4 linked regions of the Homo sapiens genome follow. The protein of the gene in region 1 interacts with the protein of each later gene in a pairwise test. Each region holds a gene or a part of one and is shown in the gene's direction. Other genes may lie near its edges. The genes, in order: POGZ, FHL2, KRTAP3-2 and DAB1.

The links.
Region 2: the proteins of POGZ (region 1) and FHL2 interact in binary tests that used the Homo sapiens proteins (3 or more experiments, as listed by UniProt).
Region 3: the proteins of POGZ (region 1) and KRTAP3-2 interact in binary tests that used the Homo sapiens proteins (3 or more experiments, as listed by UniProt).
Region 4: the proteins of POGZ (region 1) and DAB1 interact in binary tests that used the Homo sapiens proteins (3 or more experiments, as listed by UniProt).

Annotation. Positions count from the first base shown.
Region 1 is NC_000001.11:151,402,224-151,407,547, reverse strand, and holds the end of POGZ (pogo transposable element with ZNF domain), read left to right. Parts: intron 1-256; coding exon 257-313; intron 314-524; coding exon 525-637; intron 638-916; coding exon 917-941; intron 942-1,083; coding exon 1,084-2,746; 3' UTR 2,747-4,824; downstream 4,825-5,324. UniProt on the Homo sapiens protein: Plays a role in mitotic cell cycle progression and is involved in kinetochore assembly and mitotic sister chromatid cohesion.
Region 2 is NC_000002.12:105,368,052-105,375,104, reverse strand, and holds part of FHL2 (four and a half LIM domains protein 2), read left to right. Parts: intron 1-1,371; coding exon 1,372-1,546; intron 1,547-7,053. UniProt on the Homo sapiens protein: May function as a molecular transmitter linking various signaling pathways to transcriptional regulation. Negatively regulates the transcriptional repressor E4F1 and may function in cell growth.
Region 3 is NC_000017.11:40,998,646-41,003,722, reverse strand, and holds KRTAP3-2 (keratin-associated protein 3-2), read left to right. Parts: upstream 1-3,816; 5' UTR 3,817-3,869; coding exon 3,870-4,166; 3' UTR 4,167-4,530; downstream 4,531-5,077.
Region 4 is NC_000001.11:57,414,061-57,421,060, reverse strand, and holds part of DAB1 (disabled homolog 1), read left to right. Parts: intron 1-7,000. UniProt on the Homo sapiens protein: Signaling adapter of the reelin-mediated signaling pathway, which regulates the migration and differentiation of postmitotic neurons during brain development.

The DNA of each region.
Region 1 (5,324 bases):
GGTGGGAGCTTGTTAGAAATGCTGACTCTCAGCCCCGCCCTAGGCCTACTGAACCAGAATGTGAATTTTAATAGATCCTCAGTGACTTGTATGCATATTAAAGTTTAAGAAGCATGGTGACAGGAAAACTGGCTTAGGTTGAGATTAGGGTGCACTGAAGAAGTGTCTCTTTTGTTGGGGGCATTGTCACTGGCTGGTGATCTCTAGCTTAGCCAGCAGAACTCCGTAACTCATACCACTTCTTTGTCTTTCTCAGCAATCATGTTCCACGGAAGAGCCCCAAGTATTTGGCTTTGTTTAAAAATTCTGTGAGGTAAGAAAAAACTTATTGGCAGCATCTTAATTTTTCAGGTTTTTACATTAATTTTCAGGTTTTTCATTATTTGGAGAGGTGGTTATGTGAATTAATTTCAGAAAAAGGAGAAAGTGGGAGGGCATTCCTTTTCTTTCTTAAGCCTCAAAGCTTAATGGTCTCAAGTGTCACTGCTGTGTTTGTCTTACATAGTCTCAATTCTCTTTTTTAGTGGAATCAAGCTGGCCTGCACTTCATGTACCTTTGTTACCTCTGTGGGCGATGCTATGGCCAAGCATTTGGTATTCAACCCCTCTCACAGATCCAGCAGCATCCTGCCACGGGGTAAGTAGGAGAGAAGGGGATTAGTTGAGCAAGGGGAGGAAAAAAGATACAGGTTCGTACTGTATGCATCAGGAGCATACCTACTTGGCCTCACTCATTCACTGTTGAGATGTGCTGGACCTAATTAGAAACCTTCCGACCTGAAGTTTATATAAAACTGGGAAAGCTGGTCACTGCGAACAGCGTATTTGTATGTAGTAAGTTGAATCCCAGGGCACTGTCTTTGGAGGGCTTATTTTTTCACTGAGCTAACTATTTTTGTTGTTTCATTTTCCATAGGACTCACTTGGATAGCTCACTCAAGGTAACAAAAACTCACCTCACAATTTAATTTCTGGTTTGCAGTGTGTTTACTCTGTTATTATTATTATTATTATCATATTATTGTTTCAATTTCCTAGTTGAACTGAGATTTCTCCTCTTCTCTTTGCTCCTCACCCCTTTAGGCATGGCCAGACTCGTGACCGAGTGCATGACCGGAACGTGAAGAATATGTACCCTCCTCCTTCCTTCCCCACTAACAAAGCTGCCACTGTGAAATCTGCGGGGGCCACCCCAGCTGAGCCTGAAGAGCTACTAACTCCCTTAGCCCCAGCACTCCCATCACCAGCCTCAACTGCAACCCCACCACCAACCCCCACTCACCCGCAGGCTTTAGCCCTTCCACCGCTGGCTACAGAGGGAGCCGAATGTCTGAATGTTGATGATCAGGATGAAGGGAGCCCAGTCACCCAAGAACCTGAGCTAGCATCAGGTGGTGGTGGTAGTGGTGGAGTTGGCAAAAAGGAGCAGCTGTCTGTGAAGAAGCTTCGAGTAGTACTGTTTGCTCTATGCTGCAATACAGAACAGGCAGCTGAACACTTCCGAAATCCCCAGCGACGTATTCGCCGTTGGCTTCGACGTTTCCAGGCCTCCCAGGGGGAGAATCTAGAGGGCAAATATCTGAGCTTTGAGGCAGAAGAGAAACTGGCTGAGTGGGTGCTAACCCAGCGCGAACAACAGCTACCTGTAAATGAGGAGACCTTGTTCCAGAAGGCCACCAAAATAGGACGTTCTTTGGAAGGGGGGTTTAAGATCTCCTATGAGTGGGCTGTGCGTTTCATGCTGCGGCACCACCTGACTCCCCATGCCCGGCGAGCTGTGGCCCACACCCTACCTAAGGATGTAGCAGAGAATGCAGGACTCTTCATTGATTTTGTACAACGGCAGATTCACAACCAGGACTTACCCTTGTCTATGATTGTGGCTATTGATGAGATCTCTTTGTTCCTGGATACAGAGGTGCTGAGCAGTGATGATCGAAAGGAGAATGCCCTGCAGACAGTGGGCACAGGGGAACCTTGGTGTGATGTAGTCCTAGCCATTCTGGCAGATGGCACTGTCCTTCCCACCCTGGTTTTCTACAGAGGGCAGATGGATCAGCCTGCTAACATGCCAGACTCCATATTGCTAGAGGCAAAGGAGAGTGGCTACAGTGATGACGAGATCATGGAGCTGTGGTCAACTCGAGTGTGGCAGAAGCACACAGCTTGCCAGCGCAGCAAAGGCATGCTTGTGATGGACTGTCATCGCACTCACTTGTCAGAAGAGGTACTGGCTATGCTTAGTGCCTCTAGCACTTTGCCTGCAGTGGTCCCAGCAGGCTGTAGCTCCAAAATTCAGCCATTAGATGTATGCATCAAAAGAACTGTCAAGAACTTCCTGCATAAAAAATGGAAGGAACAGGCTCGGGAAATGGCAGATACTGCATGTGATTCTGATGTCCTGCTTCAGCTGGTGCTTGTCTGGCTGGGTGAAGTGCTAGGTGTCATTGGGGACTGTCCAGAGCTAGTTCAGCGCTCCTTCCTGGTGGCTAGTGTTCTGCCTGGCCCCGATGGCAACATTAACTCACCTACAAGAAATGCTGACATGCAGGAGGAGCTAATTGCCTCCCTAGAGGAGCAACTGAAGCTGAGTGGGGAACATTCTGAGTCTTCCACTCCACGACCCAGATCATCTCCTGAAGAGACAATTGAGCCTGAAAGTCTTCACCAGCTCTTTGAGGGTGAAAGTGAGACCGAGTCTTTCTATGGCTTTGAAGAAGCTGACCTAGATCTGATGGAGATTTGAGTGTTGGGGTCATGAGGGGGTGTGGAGTGAGGGTGGGAACATGTGAGGGAGGGTAAAGGGGCTTAGGGAAAAGGGGGCATACCAGGTGGGGTATTTGGTTTCTATTTTTTAATTTTATACCACCACTCCCCCCTGAAGTTGACTTACACTTCCCTGTGGATTTGTGGATTAATTAGGAAAACCAATAGTAATCACGTCTGAGCCAAGGAGCTGGCCCATTGGTCATTCACTTCTGCTAAAAACAGGTTTTTGTGACTTTTTTTTTTTTTAAATTTAAATCACTGTGTTTGGTATTTTTCTGACAAAATTAAGAAAAAGAAAAAAAATTATTTGTGGGCAAATGTTAAATTTTTTTGTTTCCCCTTTTACCTCAATTGTATCATAGTACTGGGTTTTTTTGTTTGTTTTATTGTGTGGCCAATGTCTTTGGGCATGATGCTATCTAATCATTGTTAATGTGAGAACATTTCTGAAGATGGGAAAGACAAATTATGTAGCTCACAAACTGGTTTATTATATATATGGATAAAAAACTTTTTTCATTGTGGTCTTAACACTTTTATATAAAAATGAAAATGGAAAAAAAGTCCCACTGAACTCTCTCTTCCTTCTCCTTTTCTTTCCTTCCCTCTCCAGAGATGTTGGTTTCTACAGCAACCCTAGATATAAAATTGTGGCTTTAAAAATGCATGAAACCACCTTTAATTATCCAGAATGAATAGATTTGTCTTTTCCTCACCACCTTCCCTCCAAAACATGACATAAACAATATTTTTTGCACTTGTGATCCTTGGCCCCTTTCCCCATTCTCAACACCATCCATCCCTCTGGACAAAGGATCATACAGGTGTTATTAGCAAGCAAGAGATACTGAAGCGATCAAACAGTTTTAGGGTGGAAGCCATTCCCAGTTTGAGTCTTCATCCTGTAAGCCCCCAGGGGCAGTCCCTGCTTTACTGAACTTCATCCTGTTAGATGGAGAGCATGCCTGTTTAAGGGATTACTGGTCCTACAGCCAGGAGCTAATTGTTCAAGAAGTGTTGAACTTTAAAAAGACAAGACCACTTGTTGAAATCCAGCGTGCTCTGTGGCTTTCCCCTATTTCTCTTAATACTTAGGGAAGAATCTGACAGGAAGAAGCGCACAGGGGTGTGCACAAAGAAAATGACATGAATCTTTATTTTTCACTGCCAGCTTCAAGGAAAGAAAATTTTTTCTACAATTTGCATGAGGGATTTTTTTAATTGTATGTACTCATGGTTGTAAACCAAAACGTACTGTACCGTACAGAGAAAAGGAGCAAAAAACCAAGTCTTCTGTTTATCCTGAGGCTTTCCACAATGTTCCCCTCCTGTGAGCCAAGGAGGCAAACTGCACAAGCTTGTAAATGGTTCGTCTTTAAAATGTACATAAGTGGAACATTTAATAAAATGAGGGGAAATGGATTTATAAACTTGTTTTTTTTCTAGGTGACCCTGTTTAATAGGCTTTCACAGACTGGGGAATGCTCAAGATGTGATGGGCCTGGTGGTACAGGTGTGACATTTGTTACCACCCATTTCTCCCACCCCACCCTGCTTTTTTGTTTGTTTGTTTTTTCATCCCCCAGCACACTATAATATAGTGAACTGGAAAAGTCCCTTCCAGAAACAGCTTGGCCAGCTTTGTGAACCTTTGACATCTGAAAACAACCAAGGATCCATCTGGGCTTCTCTTCCCCAGCTTTTTGCCTGATGCCATTTTATTGACAGACAATGGACTTTGAAGTCAGCCTTTGCCTTTGAGAAAGTTCAAGAACTATGGTTGGTCACGTCTATCTACAACCTAATCCTACTCTTTGGTAGTCTCTGCAGCAGCCACAGCCTTAGCAGAGCTGGGGTTCCTGTCTTCTGCACACGATTGACTTTCTTGATGGGTAATTTTTTTTAAGATTATACCAACAGTGGATCAGCTGGGTTTTGGCCAGGAAGTTGTCTTTGTGGACTCTGCCTGCATGGCTTAGTAGTAGAAGGAAATTTTTTTTTGGTTTTGTTTTTTATAATTCAGTTTAATCAATAAACATGTATTTATTGACTGTTTCCTGTGTTGAGACTGAATGTGTGGAGGTTTCAGATTGAAAGCTCATTGTTTGGCTTTACAAGTTTGTTGTTAACGGACAATGCAAATGGAGGGATGGTTTTATTTTTTCCTTCAGTTCTCACTGAATTTCTGTACTTTGAATTTGCTGCCTATATTTTCTTTCTCAAGAAGTTTGGAGAGGATTTGTGTCAGAATCGCCTACAGTGTTCATTTTAAAAATTCAAGCTGGGCATGATGGCTCATGCCAGTAATCCCAGCACTTGGGAGGCTGAGGCAGGAGGTTGCTTGAGCTCAGAAATTCAAGGCTGTAGTAGGCTATGATCATGCCACTGCACGCCAGCCTGGGCAACAGAATGAGACTTTTGTCTCTAAAATATTCAGGTTTAGAACCATTCCAGGGATGGCTGATGCCCCAGCTGACTTGAGGGCAACCTGATGCAGAATAGTTCTACTAGATTATTTTTAAAGTGGTATTTTAATGAAAATCACAGCCAACATT
Region 2 (7,053 bases), on another chromosome or scaffold:
AGTTTTGGTTCCGAGTTAGCTGGTGTTTTAGGACTTTCTAATCAAGGCCAAGATCCATGTCTTCACATCCTACATTCAGCATAACTCCAGCTTCGACTTCGGTTTCAGTAACAGAGACATCGTGGGCAGGCTCTTCTTCAGGGCCATCGCGTGAACAGCCCTCCTGTGCCCTGTTCAGGATACCTACCAACTGGAAGCCTGCCCAGGAAACCGTGCAGAGCCTAATACTCTGTTTCTGCCTCATGTATAAATGGATGATGATTTGGGGTCAGAGCTGGGAACACAAAGACAGCAATAGAAACATATCCTTTCTAAGATAAAGCTGGGCATAAAGAGATTGTTATTTTAATTTTGTGTTGGCACTTTAAAAATGCCGTATGTCATTTTTAAAAGGCAAATATGGAGGGTTCTCTTATTCCTCAGGCAAGATGAAGCCAAGTGTGGAGTCGAGTTTTCTGCGGGGCTCCTTTCTCTCCCTCATCTTTTACTCAAAAGCACACGTCTGTCTTCTCAGGGCCTCTCTCATGTGTGCTCAGTTTTTGTCTCACTTCTCCCACCCTCACGCCCCTCCACTCCCACATCCTTACCCGTCCCCCAGTCTGAGCACTTCACTCTCCTGTTGAAAAGCAGCTGTCCACTGCCTTCAGGATCAATGGAATCTCTACACAGACATAAAAGGCAAAAAGGCAGCCATATCTTCCAGTCCAGCCAGGCCGGGGGGCCCTCCCACCTCGCCCCTGGCCTGTGGTCCCTCCAATCTGACATGCCCCCCGTCCCCAGATCTTCTGTGTCTGTGCTCTTTCTCTGCCTGAAATTCCCTTCCTCCCCCAGCTCACGGCCACCCACAGAGGTAGCACCCACACACACAGTCTCTCCTGACCGTCTCCCACCAAACAGTCCTTGGGCCTCCTGTGAACATCCCGACACCCAGAGCCTCTCTGCCATGCCGGTGACCACAGTGATCTGAGTTGGGCAGGGCTCCCTCAGCCAAGGATGTCCTGCAGTCTGTTTCTCTGTCACCGGATGTGGTGTGAGACGAATTGATAGGTGTTCATGTTTTCTGTTTCTCTTTCTTGCAGGCAATACATAAGGGAAATCCCTTTGTTTTTTAGAAGCATCTCTCACACACAGACATGTGCATACATGCACATCTGTCTAACCTGTTGCTCTAAAATGCAGCAAGAGAAAAGCAGCCTAGTCTTAATTGATTTCAGCAGTTAGGTGGTCCTGGGGCATGAATGTGGGTGCGCCAGGGTGCCTCGGCCCAACTTCTTTCCTTGTTTGCCCTGCAGATTCGCAAGGGGCCCCTATGCTGTGGGTCCAAGCCCTCCTGTCCTGCCTCTGACTGTCTTGTGTGGTCTGGCCCCACAGGACTTGTCTTACAAGGACCGGCACTGGCATGAAGCCTGTTTCCACTGCTCGCAGTGCAGAAACTCACTGGTGGACAAGCCCTTTGCTGCCAAGGAGGACCAGCTGCTCTGTACAGACTGCTATTCCAACGAGTACTCATCCAAGTGCCAGGAATGCAAGAAGACCATCATGCCAGGTCAGGAGGCACTCCTTTCTCATGCGTGAGCCAGTCTAGCTTCAAGCCTTGTGCACGTTCCTCTGACCCCCTGTTCACATTGACTTGGTTCCAGACACTCGTGTTGACTTTCCAGTTTGACCTTGAACTGCAGAGGAGTATTTAGAGTACTTACGAAGCAGGGACATACAGGTTCTATCATGGGCAGTAACGGGATCTTTTTGCTGTGCACGTGGGGCAGTGTTATGCAGTCAAATTGTTAGAGTAAGAAAATGGTGGGTATCCCCCTTAAAAATACATCTCCTGCATCAGCCCCCACTCTCCCACCACCATAGATAGTTTCTCTTTTCTTCCCTTCTACCTGCTGAATTTGTACTCATTCAGTTATTTCACCAAGTGTGCATGGTGCCCTTGCGTGCCAGGCACTGGGCTCGAGCTGAGCATTCGTAGGGTGTGAGCCGAGGTGCACCTGGTCCTCTGCCCTTGTAGAGTTGGTGTTCTAGACGGACAGTCAAAAAGGGCACAGCCGCAACTGGGCCAGGTGCCGAGGATGGCAATAAAGGTGCCTTGTGTGTTGATGGGACTGTGTCCCTCATGGTTTTTTTGTGTGTGTATGTGGGGGGAGTTATTTGTTTTGTTTTGTTTTTTATGTAGGAGAGCAGAATCTTTTATTTTAAAAAGCAAAGTGGACAAAAATATGTGGAATTTCAAAATACAGAAAGAAGCTGGGTGCGGTGGCTTATACCTGTAATTCCAGTACTTTGGGAGGCTGAGGTGGGTGGATCACTTGAGGTCAGGAGTTTGAAATCGGCCTGGCCAATGTGGTTCAGTGGTGCAATCTTGACTCACTGCAACCTCTGCCTCCCAGGTTCAAGAGATTCTTCTGCCTTAGCCTCCTAAGTAGCTGAGACTACAGGCGTGCACCACCACACCTGGCTAATTTTTGTATTTTTAGTAGAGATGGGGTTTCATCATGTTGGTTTGCTTTGTTTTTGATAATAAAGAAATACTGAAGAGACTGACATATGGGAAATAGTTTAGAAATATATGTAGGATGCCAGGTGTGGTGGCTCACCCCTGTAATCCCAGCACTTTGCAAGGCTAAGGAGGGCGGATCACGAGGTCAGGAGTTTGAGACCAGCCAGGCTAACATGGTAAAACGCTGTCTCTACTAAAAATACAAAAAATTAGCCGGGCATAGTGGCGGGCGTCTGTAGTCCCAGCTACTCGGGAGGCTGAGGCAGGAGAATGGCCTGAACCCAGGAGATGGAGCTTGCAGTGAGCTGAGATCACGCCACTGCACTCCAGCCTGGGTGACAGAGTGAGACTCCGTCTCAAAAAAAAAAGAAAGTTATGTAGGATAAGGAATAATCATTTTTTAAAAAGGCAAGGAGGTAATCTGACCTTTGGTAAGATGGTTTCTTACTGCCACTACATTTCTCTGGTTAATATAACTTTAAAACAACTGTGACACACTATGACAGGGAAGAAAAATGCCCAGGCTGACACAGTCCCAGCCCTGTTGGCAGCTGTAAGGGAAAACAGCTGGAAGGGCTGCATGGTGACTTTAGATGGGGCAGCTCCAGGCAAGAAGGCCTCTTCTAAGATCATGTGGATCCTGCAGAGGCTGGAAACTCGGGCCCCAGTGCTGTGCGACAGTGCAAATGAGAATTGAAGCCCGTAGAAAGCCAGGCTGACCTGTGTCCTGCCCCACAGGGAGTCACTGCAGAGACACAACACTCAGTAACAATAAGAACCACGACATTAATTGAAAAACAAATTAAACCCTTACTAGTTTCCTGAACAAGGGCCCAAGGAAGCTTCCACTGGGGACTCTAGGGGCTGTTTAAAGACTTTAACTGTTAGCACCAACCATGACATAAAAAGTATGCATATTTCCCGGATTTTGAATTTTTCACCTGTCTTGACTTTCTGTGTTAGTCACGTTCTCCAGAGAAACAGAATCAATCAAGGAAATGTATACACATAGATACATACATAAGGAGAGAGAGAGAGAGAGAGAGAGAGAGAGATTTCAAGGGATTGGCTCATGAGATTGTGGAGGCGGTAAGTCTGGAATCTATAGAACAGGGCAGCAGGCTGGAGGCTCAGGGAAGAGATGATACTGCAGTTCCAAATGGGAGCATTTGAATTCCGTAGGGCGGCAGGCTGGAAACTCAGGCAGGGTGTGTCTATTGCAGTCTTGAGAAGAATTAGTTGCCCTTAGGGAAACCTTAGTCTTTGCCCCTAAGGCCCACTACCGATTAGATGAAGCCCGGCCCTGATACGTGGGTAACGTGCTGCACTCGAAGCTTGCTGACTTAGATGTTAGTCACATCTAAAAAACACCTTCACGGCAACAAGTAAACCTGTTTTTTGACCAAACAACTGGGTACCAGAGCCCAGCCACGCTGACACATAAAATTAACCATCACACCTTCCCTTTCTCATGGTGTTTACTGGGGAGGGAAAGAAAAGAAAAACATGATCAGATAAGAAGTAAAAACCTAATGTTCAGTGAGAGGTAACCCATACTGAATATCTGAGAATTAACTGGCCGGCAGCCTCTTCTACTAAGGAATGGGGGAAGCAAGAATTCAGGCTCTGTGGTAAGAAATGCTGTGTAGTAATAATAACAACACAGCTACAGCTTCCAGCCCCTGAGCACACACACAGGCGTCAGACCCTGCTGCTTTACAGAATCCCATTGAATCTTCGGTGTTCCCTGGGTTGGATGGCTTCATCCCCATTTTACAGGTGCCTCTGCCAGAAGAAACGGACTGGGCACCAAAGGCAGGGCGTCTAGAAGAATCCCGGTGTATGCAAAACAAACCAGCACCGACAAAACACTGAATCAAAGCACTTGCTTGCCTGGGTTTGATTTTTAAAAGTGTTAGAACCCATTCAAGATGAATATGGGTTTACAGCGTCAGTGCACAGCTTTTGCGGTGAATTTACATTTAGAGGACAAGTGAAAAACTCACCCACCAGCTCCACACCCCCCACACAAGTCAGTTTCCTGATGACCAATCAGGAAACTGGAATACCATCAGTAACCCCAGTGCTGGGGTTTACCGGCTCTCGCGCCCCTATTAGCAGACGTTGCTTACAGATGCACCACAGCCTCTGAGCAGACTCAAGTAGCGATTCTGTCTCCAACCCTGCAACCAAATTTCTGGCTCCTCATTTGACTTTTTTTTTTTTTGAGCCAGGATCTCGCTCTTTCGCTCAGGCGGGAGAGTAGTGGTACGATCACTGCTCACTGCAGCCTTGACCTCTCGGGCTCAAATGATCCTCCCACCTCAGCCTCCTACGTGTCTAGGACCTCAGGCACACACCACCACACCCGCCTAATTTTTTTTTTGGGGGGGTAGAGACAGGGACTCTCTATGTTGCCCAGGCTGGTCGCCAACTCCTGGGCTCAAGAGATCTCCCGCCTTAGCCTCCCAAAGTGCTGGGATTACAAGGCTGAGGCACCGCAGCCAGCCTCATTTGACTATTTGAATCAGATTAAGACATCCCTTCTTCAAGACTGCGCTTCCGCCTGCGGGAGACTTGGTTCAGAGTGTGCGATTCAGTTAGGAGAAGGAACGCTCCTGCCACCTGCCGGTATTGCTGCATATGACCATGCAGGCTTGCGGCCACTGCTGTCGCCATGCCTGAGGTGCACGCGCCATGTCCCTGAGGCTCCAGGTGCCCTGTGCATTCCCTGCACGTAGAGTTGCCCTCGAACTGGTGTTGATCTGATCAGACTTATTTCAGAACTCGACAAGAATGCCATGAGAGTCATAATTGCCCCATATTCATTGGCAAAATCCTTTGGCTTCTGGGCTGCTTGATCAGAATGAATGTCAGAGATCCAAAGAGCAAGTGACAAAAGTATGCATGGAGGTTGAAGAAAATCTTTGTGAATTCAAAGTCCTTCCACTATTTTTACTTGAATTTCAATTGCTTCATGTAATGTTTGTTTTAGGATTCATCACCCCACAATTGAATTCCATAGATTGTACAGCTTAGTTTTGAATTAAAAGATCGCTGCGTGTCACCATCCCAAATTCCCTCTCACACATTGCCCCCCAACACACACCCTGCTTATTTTATATAATCTCAAATGTCTGGTCTTGGAAGTACAGGAAGCTGAGAAAATGATCCTAAATAACAATCGTGATAATTCTCAGCACATTCCTAATTACTGGAGGACAGACATTTCATGACCAACTTTCTAGCCAGCTAAAATACAACCCCTAGCTTTGTCCTTGGGACCATAAGATTTTGGGGCTGAGAGCTATGGACTAGTCTATAGACTCCTATAAGCCACCTGTGTTACTGCAGCTGCTTCCACCTGGTCTGGAGCGGGGCAGTCCCTCTGTCGGCTTGATTCCCCATCATTCCCTGACCCCCAGTTGAAGTCACATGTATGTGACCCTCATGCCACAGTCCCCAGGGATTGGCAACATTTTTCCTTCAAAAATCAGATAAATATTTGGGGCTTTGTGGACCATACAGTCTCTGTCACAACTACTCAACTATTACAACTACACAACAACTGCACAACTGCACACAGCTGCACACTACTCGGCCGTCTAGCTTAAAAGCGGATGTAAACAATGGAAGTAAATTAATGGGCGTGGCTGTGTTCCAATAAAACTTCATTTGAAAAGCAGGCAGCAGTCTGGATTTGGTCTTACACAGTGGCCAGGCCCCTCAGCTAGTCCGGGCACTTACAACACTTTCCTCTTTCTTTGTCCCTGATACTTATTTCCCCAGATTGTTCTTTACCTTTGCTTTATATGAAGGGTACTTGTTTATACGCCTATCTGGAATCATCCGTTACTATAAATAGATACACTTCTTTCTGGCAAACAAAAATGAAAAAATGTCAGTCAACAGACACCGAGCACTTGCAGTGAGTCCAGCTTGGTGGTGGCAGGGGTGACCCATAAGTGTTTCAGTTCTCTAGAGCTCCTCAGTTCACTTGGAGAAATGGTAGAAATGTATCAAATGCTAATAGTTATTCAAAAGACAATGGATGGCGTAGGTTTAGGCAATTACTAAATGGGATGTACAAGTAACACATGAAGATTTCAGCCAGGCATGGTGGTGTGCACCTGTAGTTCCAGCTACTCAGGTTGAGGCAGGAGTTTCCCTGGAGCCCAGATGTTCAAGGCTGCAGTGAGCCAGGATCGCACCACTGCACTCCAGCCTGGGTGACAGAGTGAGACCCTGTCTCGAAAACAAAAAAAAACTACATGTAGGTTTTAATTATAGCACTTAGTACAGTGCATAAAACTACCTAGATACATCACAACTTGGTTCAACAGGCAGTATGTAAAGTGAGTGTTGTAGAGGCTGCTCACTGAATCAGGTTCGAGGTTCCAGGTTCATTCACACTCTAGCCATTTCCATCCTGCTGTGAACCAGACGGGGTGTTCATTATCAGGTGTGCAATAGGTGAATACAGTCCCTAGACTCCAAAAGTCATGCTCCATGGGAATTCATCGGAGCTATGCCACACTTCTCTTTATACT
Region 3 (5,077 bases), on another chromosome or scaffold:
TCTACTAAAAATACAAAATTAGCCGGGCATGGTAGAGCATGAATGTAATCCCATCTATTCCTCAGGCTGAGGCAGGAGAATGGCTTGAACCCGGGAGGCAGAGGTTACTGTGAGCCAAGATCGTGCCATTGCACTCCAGCCTGGGCAACAAGAGCAAAACTCCATCTCAAAAAAAAAAAAAAGTTTTGACAACTGTAAAGCAATTCACACAAAAAATGAATCACTCTCTTTATATAAAGTGTTACTGTTATAAAAGGCCATTATAAAAATAAATAAATACCTTTTTAATTCTAATCTGAAATGTAATCCAATTCAACAAATATTTATCAAATGCCTACCCTGTTTCAGGCATTGTCCTAGGTGCTTGAAAAAGACAAATAAAACTAACATACGATTACCACTTCCAAGAACCTTGCATTGGAGTGAGGAAAACAAATTTAAGTGACAAACTACAAAATATAGCAGAAAGAAATGAGGTTGAAAGGGAAGAATAGGCAGCCCATTTTGTGAGAGCAGAGAAAAGGATGCAAACATCTAGAAGAATCACCTAGAGTTTCTTTATGAAGGGGATGTTTGGCTGAATCTTGAGGGATCAACAGGATTTGGAAACTAGAGAATTGGGAAAGGTCACTTTAAGCTAAAGAAACAGTATGAACGAGGTCACAGAGGGTAAAGTACCTAGGAGACTCCCGCCTTCACTTTATGTAATGTGCTGTATGATTAACATATGCGTGACTCACATAGTTATCATTTTTGTGATGAGAACACTTAATCCATTCTCTCAGCGTTTTTCAAAAATGCAATATATGGTTATTCACTATAGTCACCATGTTGTACAGTAGATCTCCTGAATCTATATAATATTTCAAAATCGATTTTAAAAGAGAAGTCAGAGAGAACACAGAGAATGGGAGAGGGTCTTCTTCATATATTCTACTTGCCAAGCCACTGGCTTCTAGATGAGAGAGACTGGTAAGTCAAGAGTAAGTAAACATTAAACATTTCCTTGACGATTTCAATACTAGTTCATTAACTTTGAATTTTATAATATACTGGGAAAGCCACTTGAATTTGCTTATCTGTTCTTCAGTGGTAAAGTGCAGGTATTGAGGCAGGAGACTAGCAAAGGGAATTAAAACTTGGATAAAGGGTGGAGTGAATAAAAGCAGAGACCAGAAGCAAGGTGAAGGGGCAGGTAAGCAAGAAGCAAGATAAGAAGCAGAAGTTAGACCAGGCGCGGTGGCTCATGCTGTAATCCTGGCATTTTGGGAGGCCGAAGCAGGTGGATCACTTGAGATCAGGAGTTCAAGACCAGCCTGGCCAACATGGAGAAACACCCCTCTCTACAAAAAATACAAAACTTAGCTGGGTGTGGTGGCGGGCACCTGTAATCCCAGCTGCTACTTGGGAGTCTGAGGTAGGAGAATCACTTGATCCCAGAAAGTAGAGGCTGCAGTGAGCAGAGAATGCCACTGCACTCCAGCCAAAACAAAAAGTAAGATAGAGAAGAAAGCAAGGCCCCCATGGCCGGCAAGATAAGGACCAAACCAGTAAGGGGCAACTCTTCATGGATAAGCATGTGCATTAAAGAGAAAACGTATCCTTAACATGACCTTGTATGAAAATCAGCTCATTCAGGCTTATGCATATGGACTGCATATCATGTATGTACTTAAAATTATGGGCTGGAGGTGGTGCGCAAGCACACAGGGGCCAAAGTAACTAAGCAACACACCTGTCAATCAAAGAGGCAAACACTGGCTAGAGATTAGGCAGCCTTGGGAAGGGACACACACACACACATACACACACACACACACACACAAAGACGCAAACTGCACCAAGCTGGGGGCTGATCTCATCTCACAGAGGCTGGTTTGCTCTCCCCCTCTTAGAGTGTAATACTGTGCTTAATACACTTTTGTTTCTTTGTTTTGCTGTGGGTGTCTCGTCCAATTCTTTGGGACACCAAAAGCCTGGAACTGCATGGCACCATCTGGTAACAGTATGATGTTCGACACCCTTGGCATTTGTTGTAAATTCCTGCTAATAAAAATGATTTGAAGCTGTTTTCTGTTTTTTTGTTTTTAACTTTTAAGTTCAGGGGTACCTGTGCAGGTTTGTTACATAGGTAAGCTGGTGTCATGGGGGTTTGTTGTACAGATTATCTCATCACCCACGTATTAAGCCTAGTACCTACCAGTTATTTTTCCTGATCCTGTCCCTCCTCCCACCTTCCACCCTCTGATAGGTTCTAGCATCTGTTATTCCCCTCTATGTGTCCATGCGTTCTCATCATTTAGCTACCACTTATAAGTGAGAACATGCAGTATTCGGTTTTCTGTTTCTGCATTAGTTACTAAAGATAATAGCCTCCAGCTCCATCCATGTTTCTTCAAAGGATAGGAGCTCCTTATTTTTTATGGCTGCATAGTATTCTATGGCATATATGTACCACATATTTTTGTTGTTAAAGAAAAAGATAAACTGGTTGTTTTAACGTATAACGTATAAGGCTTACCTACCAATGACATTTGATATTTTCCACTGATTTTAGCCAGCTTTCTTCTCTTTTAAGTAGATCGTACTGGTTTTTGGTAATGTCCCCTCAGAAACAACCTACCCGGAATCTTTGCTTTCTGTTAAGTCAACAAATTGCCACATAACGAGTATGTAATTTAAATTATACAATATTATCTGAAAGGATTTGTGCTGATCATGGACAGGTGTAGGAAGATGTTGGAATCTAGAATATTACACATTTGATATTATCTAGTTCAATCTCTGGCTGACTTAAGTAAATAATGTTGTTTAAGGCATACCTCAAAGGAATTTCAATCTAGTTCAAGATCCAAGGTATGAAAACAAATAAACATGCAAAGTAGGGAGTAAGTCAGTGAAAAAGTGATTTTTATGAATGCCATAGTTCTAAATTGCATTGAGTCAGATTCCCTGCCAAAATCCATGATTGTTCTGTGACTCTTGTGGTTTCTCCTTTTAATTCTTATTTCATCTTATTTTAAAGTATGTACACCATTCATGTGAAAATGAATCAAGGCTGAGGTGGTTTTCTTTTAGTGGTATATTCAACAAAGAATGGCCACTGTGTGGATCCTTCCTTCCAATGAATTTATACTTTGATTCACCACAAGATTGGCATAACTTTGAGAATAGAGACTATTTTAGAAAAAAAAAATCCATAGAATAATACAACATTGAGAAATTCACTACAGATTTAATAAAAATAATAAAAAGGAGTTTCTTCATCCTGTACCATTCTACCACTTTGCTTGCTCAATAGAACCTGAATTATAATATCACTAAATAATGCAAACATGTCCGAGATGCCTGTAGTCACATGAAACATTCATCTGTAAATAGCCATATTCTTGTTGACTTTATTGAGTTGAAAATGGTCCAGTTCATCATTTGAGTTACTCATTCTGAAATTAGTCATTAGAAATCACATTATCCATAGTATTTTAAATTAAGAGGGAAAAACAAGAAGAGTTTGGCCTCCAAAATTACAGCTGAATTGTCACTTGGATTGATTACCCATAAAAGTCATATAAGGTTTGGCATGCCAGAAACCTGTGAAGACAAAATGTGATGATCTTGTGACAAAAATGACAAGTCAATGAGTCAAAAATATGATTAACTTAATAAGAGCGGGAACTCTTAATGGACATGTAAATGACAAACTGATTAGAGAATCTCAGTGAAAAAGGGTGCCATAAACAAAACAGGAAGGCTTCCAGTTGGACCAATGCCCACTTGGGAGGGTATATAAGAGCCCTAACAAAAGAGGAGACATTTGTACCTCAGAATCCTCATCTAAGAAACTGAAAGCTAACCAGACGCCCATTGCCATGGATTGCTGTGCCTCTCGCAGCTGCAGTGTCCCCACTGGGCCTGCCACCACCATCTGCTCCTCCGACAAATCCTGCCGCTGTGGAGTCTGCCTGCCCAGCACCTGCCCACACACAGTTTGGTTACTGGAGCCCATCTGCTGTGACAACTGTCCCCCACCCTGCCACATTCCTCAGCCCTGCGTGCCCACCTGCTTCCTGCTCAACTCCTGCCAGCCAACTCCGGGCCTGGAGACCCTCAACCTCACCACCTTCACTCAGCCCTGCTGTGAGCCCTGCCTCCCAAGAGGCTGCTGATGGATGGCTACTTTGCTCAGTGCCCGACAACGAAGAATCCAGAAGCTGTCCCTTCAGTATTCACTTGCCTCAGTAGTTTGCCAGATGTTAAGGTAGACCAGATGACCCAGATATGAAGAACTTACCTTTGGTTTTAATGGGGGAAAAAAAGAAAAGTATTTTTTATGGTTATTTAGCTGAAAAACCATTTGGTTCCTGTGGGCAGGTGAATGAGTTTTATTAGCAAAATACTGTTTCAATCTTTAAGACCTCAGATTACATGTTCTTGATCATATTGCTTCCTGGCTCTTGTTTCTTGTACTGGGTATTTTCATAGAAGAAAATTTCTTGGTGGGTTTTCCAATAAACTATATTTCTCTGGCAAGATGTGTCATTTGTTTATGTTAGTTTTGGGTATATTTCTTCCATTTTAAAAAGGTAAAAACAGGATGATTATTTTAATCTTTTAAAGAAGACTCTATTGGCAGAATGACTAACATTCTTGCTACTACTAACATGGCTTGCTAACTTTTAACAGGTTCTCTTTCATGTTTGCCTTCTCTTCTCTCTTCTTCCTCAGACAAGTGCAATTTTGGTGTGAACCAACATTTATTTATCTACTCTTCACCAGTAAATTATTGATTTAGTCCTTAAAACAGCACTAATGGATAAGAAAAAATGAAGTTTTAAGCGTTATTCAACATTCTGAAAGTCATAAAGTTAATTACTTAGAAAATCAGAATTCAGCCTCTTGTATGTCTGACTCTAAAGCCCAATTTTTCCTACCACATCATAGAACCTTCAATACTAATGAAACCAGAAGCTTAATGAGCACAGTTATGAAATAAACCCAAAATATGCAAGAGAAATAAAACATGTAAGATTCTTTAACAAAATCCACATCGGATTATAATAGAAAAAGAGTACATTGG
Region 4 (7,000 bases), about 94 Mb from region 1:
GCCACCCTGCAGGCAGATGAAGAATCTAATGGAGGCAGCATTTCATTTTGATAATTCACTCAAGTCAAACATTTTGTTTTTGCTGGGATTTAATCCTTCTCTCAAACTAATAAAGCAAACAAAGCAAGAAAATCACAGTTTATGTCTCTTAGATGGCACTTTAAAAATAGCATAAATTGAAGGGTATTGTCCGGAACTTTAAATGTTATTTAGGACTTACTGAGACAAAGAATACTCGTGGTTGAGTTAAGCAGTTGAGGATGAATCTCAACTTCCCAGAACCTTGCTTTCATCATCTGCAAAACGGACAATATTACCTACCTTGTGGGTCTTGGAGCAATTTTATGGAGAAAATCATATGATTGGGTGCTTTGGCACATAGCAGGATTTCAAGAGAATGATCTCTTAGTAATAGACAGCATGGAATTCTGTTCAAGAAAGTGGATGGCATTTGGAATTGGAAGACCAGGATTGAATCCAGCTACTTCTGACTTTGTGATGTTTGGCAAGTCACCTTTCATGTTAATAAAAAAGAATAATTAACCTTTATGGAGTACTACTAAGAGTCAGGAATGCTTCTAAGCACTTTACACATATTAACTTATTTAATCTTCAGATAACCCTAGGATGTGGATACTTGTATTCTCATTTGTATTAGCTAGATAAGGAAACTGGGGCACAGGAAGATTTGGTAACTGGCCTGAGATTACATAGCAAGTAAGGGATGGAACTAGGATTTAAACCTAGCCATTCTTGTTCCAGGGTCTGTCCTAACCACTGTTATGCTGCCTCTGAGTGAGGAAGTGATCCCAGCTAGCTCCCAGGGTGTAAAATTTAATGGAGAATAATGAAATAGTAAGACTTCTATAGGAGCAAGCTACATATTTCCCCATTTTTGGATGCTAGCAAACAAAATGGGTGTTACCTTATCATCAACAGGGAGTGGGGCAATGATAGGCACTTTGAACACTTGTGACTCTGTGGCAGTTTCTATCAGGCATTGGTTAGTATTGGTTCACATCTATTTACTCTGTGAAAATGTTTATTAATTAGGTAACAATTAGTAATCAATTAGTAAATAATTGTTTAGGCAATTAGTAACGCAGAAACAGCATTACTGCTTTTCTCAGTTACTAGCTGTGGTAAGCAGAGATTCTCAAACTAAAAGGTGGTATAGCAGGTGGTAAGGAGTCTGGACTTCGTTTCTGGACTGACTGCCTGGCTTCAGATCTCAGCTCTACCAGCTCTGTAAGCTGTGTGGCCTTGGCCAGCTAATCTAACTTCTCTGTGCTTTATAGTTTTCTTTATAATGAAATAACAGTACTTACCTCATAAAATTATGAAGATTACAGGAACTAACACAAAGTGCTTAGAATAATACCTAGCATGTAAAGTTACTTAGCTATTAGTGTTATCTTTCAAATGAGATAAAAACCCATCTCCTAGATAATGAAAAAGTTTTCCATCATTGATATTCTGAGAGTTATGTATCCCAATAGTATCTGGTCTATCTTTAGGAAGAGATACATTTTAGGATTTTAGGCAAAGGTTTTTTTTTTTTTTTTTTAATTGGAAATATTTCCTTACACATTTTGGCTCTTTGTGAAGAGGAGTTGTGGAAGTACACATCATGTTAAAATTTCCATGCCATTTTACTTTTCCGCAGTTATTCTGAGGAAAGTAAAATGACTTTGATTGAATTCTAGAGGTGTGTTTGTCAACTGTCCTAATTTACAGATTGAAAGAATATTAGGCTTGCAGAGATACGTAACTTTACAGCCCAGAGGCGCCATCGCAACTCAGGATTCTTGGACTCCTTGTCCAGTGCTCCTTTCACTAGACCAGATTGTCTCCTATACCAGGATAGAGACGTGGCTTGAAAATATAAATAAAACTTGGCAGAGGAGGTGTTGTCAGGCTAAGAGCATGAGCCAGCTAGACATTCTGTACTGAAAAAAGCATGTCAGTAGGAAAAGAAAACCCCTCCTCTGGTATGTACATTTATATCCATGAAAACTCACACTGAACTGAATCTGTGAAATGCATATCAGGATATAAATTCATGTAAAAAAATGAAAACAACTCATTAATCAAATTAATCACCTGGATATTTCCCTCTGATTGGAGAGCAAATGTTCAGATTTCTTTTTCTTTGACATGTTCTTTTTATTTTTCTTCCATTTAGTTTTGAGATGTGGGAAGGTTTTGGTTGAGGAATCATAAAACTCCTCTGGCATCTATTTTATGAAATATGTAGCATATTCTATTGGAAAGAAATTGCAAGCTTGCTTTTATTATTATTATTTTATTTTATTTGAAGCTGACATATAACCAATCTGCAATGCCAGTGGGGGAGTCTCATAAACAGAAAGGAAAATATAAATAAAATTCTGCTGAATAGAAGAGATGACAGCTAAAATGACGAAAATTTTGTGGTGGTGAAGGCGGGCTGTTTAACTTATGGTATAAAAATAAGGGGATGGGTCCTCCCAAATAGTTGTAAGTAGTTCAGCATGAACCCAAATCGGCCCTCTTGACCACCTGTAGTGAGTCTTGCAAATTACCAACCCCATGCATCTGCTCCGAGCTTCATATTGATTTACAATTTTCTTTGTTGGTCAGTCTCTGCATCTCTTGAATGGACTCATGATTTGTTTACTTGGTATCCATCAATTCAGGTATCTCTTTCTTTGCTCTTTCTCTGTCTCTGTCTTTCCTCGTTTCTATCTGCCTTTGTCACATTCAGTCTTTATGTCTCTTTGTTTTTATTCATGTTAGTGTTGCAACTGAAAATAATTGAAAAGCTGTGAATATGCATTGAGAGAATCTGGGAAATTGAGGAAGAACATTCTGGTCATGCACATAAACATCACTTCTATGTCCATTCAACAAATGTTTACTGAGCACCTACTTTGTGCTTGACTCTGGCTCTGTGCTAGGCATTGTGAAGAGTACCAAGATGCAATTGCACAGTTTGCCATCTAGGGACCTGGTTTCATGCATAAATAACTGTTACAGCAGGAGATGCGCTATGGAAAATATGTATACAGCTGTGGAACCTTCTGGAGGTGGTAATTTACTCTACCTGGAGAAAGGAAAGGCTGGGGGAAGGCTTCATTTCACCTAGGTCTTGAAGGCTGACCAGGAGTTTCTCAAGGCTTAAAGGCAGTTCTGACTGATAGGACTTCATGGACAAAGTCATGCAAGCATGAAGGATGGTTATTGACTTAGGGATGGGCATAATTGGGTACAGAGGTAATGTAGAACATGCATCAAAATGGGTTTTTTTAATAGAGCATTTTCCAAACTGTGTCCCAGGAAACACTAATGTCCCCTAAGATCATTATGAATATTTCAAAAGGAAGAAGGCTCAGAGGGAAAAATAAGTTCCATGTTCAAAAATGTTTGGAAGATATTGAATTATATATCCTGTTCTTAGTAAGATGTGGTATTTACTGATATGTTAAAGGTTCAGAGATTTTCTGCACTAAAGTCATTTAACTCATGAAGAATTTTAAAAATTCATTTGCCATAGAACCTTTGATTTCAAGTAGCATCTCTCAGTGTCTTATGAAATAGATTGGGAAAAATGTAGAGAATCACTTAAGCCTTTTAAGAGTAGTTTTCATTCTATCATGAAAATAATATGTGTGTGATTTGAAATGTAGGACAGAATATTTAACCCATTTATGCCTAGTGTTCCTTTATTGGAATGCTAAGCTTGTGGGCGTTATTTATATCCTACTGCTCAAGGTCATCACCAAAGTCTCATTTTTCACAAAAAACAATTTGCAACCTCTGGCATAAATGGGTTAAGACACACAAAAAGTATAAATAACAATATAATAAAAAGTTTTGTACCTACCACTCAGCTAATGAAATAAAGCCAGTTAAATACAGTTGAAACCTCCTGGTAACCTTTCTCTGATCATACGTCCCCTTCTCTTGGCAGACATAGTCACTATCCTAAATTTGATAATTCTTTTGAATATATTTTTCCAGAACAAACCTAAACAATTCCACTGAATTCTCTTCACTTTCTAGCTCATTACTGTATATATAATAAAAAGAAATGGTATTTTGTCCAATAATTTTCCTGAAATAAAGGACATTTATAAACTGTCTAGCTAGTCACTACATAGGTAATAAGAAAGAAATAGTATTTTGCCTAATAATTATACTGGAATAAAGGACATTTATGAACTACTTAGGGAAAGGAAATATAGCTGTCCCTTTTAACTCCGGTGTCTGGAATGTAGTAGATGCTCAATAAGTTTCTGCTTAATTGAATTGAATTAAATGTGTTCAGTCTGCTGTGGTTCATTAAGTTAATTTGGGTAAAAAGATTAGGGTAAATTGTTTTCCATAGACAATATTGAAATTCTTTGTGATCAGTGAACTTGAAAATCATTTTTTATTGTGATTCTTTATTTTGTAATCTAGATTTGGGAGTGAATTATAATAATTATCTGTTGAAAGTCATTTCTATGTTTTATTGACATCTCTTAAAATCATTAACAATAACTACTTATCCAAATCTGTCCTATTAAAACAGTCGATTCACTAGAGCTATCTACTTCCATTATAGGAAAAATTATAAATAAAACTGCTTTCATCCAAAGAGGAAATTTTAAAATTGTAATGCTATGTAATTACTCAGTACCCTGACATGAAATGCATTGAAAGTTTATGAGGTTCCATTCCTTGGGGTCCCCAAGAAATAACTTCCCATCAGTAACAGAGTGTTGTTATTAGATACTATCATGCCAACAGAAGCATCTCTTTTGATATATGCAAGGGACATCTTGAAAAAATTTACATCACCTTAAACATAAGTCATATGTGGGTGACATTTTCTTCTCTTATTGTCTCAGACTATATTCATATATTATGGTATATATGTCAACATGTAGAGTGAATGGCAGAATATTGGTGAAGAATGCATGGTAGAATGAATGAGAGGAGAAAGGAAATGGAAGACTCACAGGCTCACCGGAGGAAGCTTTTGGTACAAAATCATGGCTGTGTGGGAGACAGTAGATTACCTTCTCTCATGGGGTTAGAAGTTGATCTACCCTAGGGTTTTCTATCCTTGCTTTCACTGATATATATTTCTCCTGGTAGTTTTTGTAGTAGCAGTTAAATCCCAGCAGTTAGCAGAACAAGAATGAACTTTGTGGTGTGAATGATCATAAACATAGAAAAACGCTGCACAGAGGGTAAGGAAGAGATGCTGTACAATCCTAGTCCCTGGTGATGGTGTAGCAGTACCTATAATGATGGCATGTGGTGGTGCTTGTCTTGAATTGCAGGCCATGTTATTCTGAGCAGTATTATATGTCTACTCACGAAAGTTCTAGGTATAAGCCACATCCATTCAAATATACTCAGGTTAAACCAGTAGTGCTAGTAATCTAATTGTGGACAAAGTCAAAGATGGGCCAACCATATGCTGAATCTGAGCTATGGCATGTGTTGTCAGAATATAGTTCCAATAAATGCAAAAAGGTTATTTATGCCTTTGGGAAGCTGAATAGATTTATAGACCACATAGAAGTTGGATTTTTGCCAACCTTCTGCTATCTAACTTCTTAATTTTAACGTAGTTGAATTTATCAATCTTTTATGGTTAGCACTTTTTATGTCTTGTTTCAGAAAGCCTTTTTTTTCCCACTCTGATGTCATGAAGATATTCTCCTTTGTTGTCTTCTAAAAGCTTTATTGTTTTGTTTGCCTTTCAAATTTAGGTTCTCTAATCCATGTGGAGTGTGTGCATATATGTGTGTGTGTGTGTGTGTGTGTGTGTGTGTGTGTTGTGTGAGGTAGGCATTTATTCTAATTTTCTTTCATATGGAAAAATGATTTTCCTGGAACTTAGAGTCAATTTCTAAGCATATGTTTTAGCCACTCTTTTGCCCTAACCAAACTTTATTATAGCTTTTTAATGAATCTTGGTATTGGCCAGGACACATCCCTAAAAGTGTCCTTCTGCAAAAGTGTCTCAAGAGTGTCTTGGCTTTTCTTGGGCTGTTTTCTTCCGTATACATTTTATAATCATCTTTCAAGGTTTCACAAGAATACTGTTGAGATTTGATTTGAGTTTTATCAAACTTATAGACTGATTAAAAGATAATGCCATCATTAGGACATTGAGCCTGAGTCTTTCTATCTGTAAATGTAGTAACTCTTTCCATTTATTTAGTTCTTATTTAATGTCTTTCAATACAGTTTATAATTTTCTTCAAAGGGCATGCACTCTTTTTAGATTGAGTTTTAGGTGGTTTATATTTTTGTAATTGCCATTGTAAATGTTATCTTTAAAATTATATTTTCTAGCTATATATTAATTTTCATCATATGCTACCTGTATTTCTTATTCTAAATGGCAAATAGTCAGGAGAGGAGGAAAATCATGGGTGTTTTTGAATGCTTACTATTAAATAAATTCAGGCATCCATGGGAGATACGGCTGGTTCCATTCCAGGCCACTGCAATAAAGAGAATATTGCAATCAAGTGAGTCACACAAATTTGTTGGTTTTCCAGTGTATATAAAAGTTATGTTTACACTATACTGTAGTCTGTTAAGGGTGCAATAGCATTATGTAAAAAAATCAATGTACATACCTTAATTGAAAATACTTTATTGCTCACATATGCTAATGATCAGCTGAGCCTTCAGCAAGTCATAATCTTTTTGCTGGTGGAGGGTTTTACCTCAATGTTGGTGGCTACTGACTGATTAAGGTGGTGGTTACTGAAGATTGAAGTAGCTGGGTCAGTTTCTTAAAATAAGACAATAATGAAGTTTGTCACATTGATTGACTCTTCCTTTCATGAAAGATTTCTCTATAGAATGCAATGCTGTTTGACAGTATTTTACCCACAGCAGAACTTTTTTCAAAATTGGAGTCAGTCCTCTCAAACCCTGACACTGCTTTATCAATAAGTTTATGTAAATCCTTTGCTGTCATTTCAACAATCTTCACAGCATCTTCACT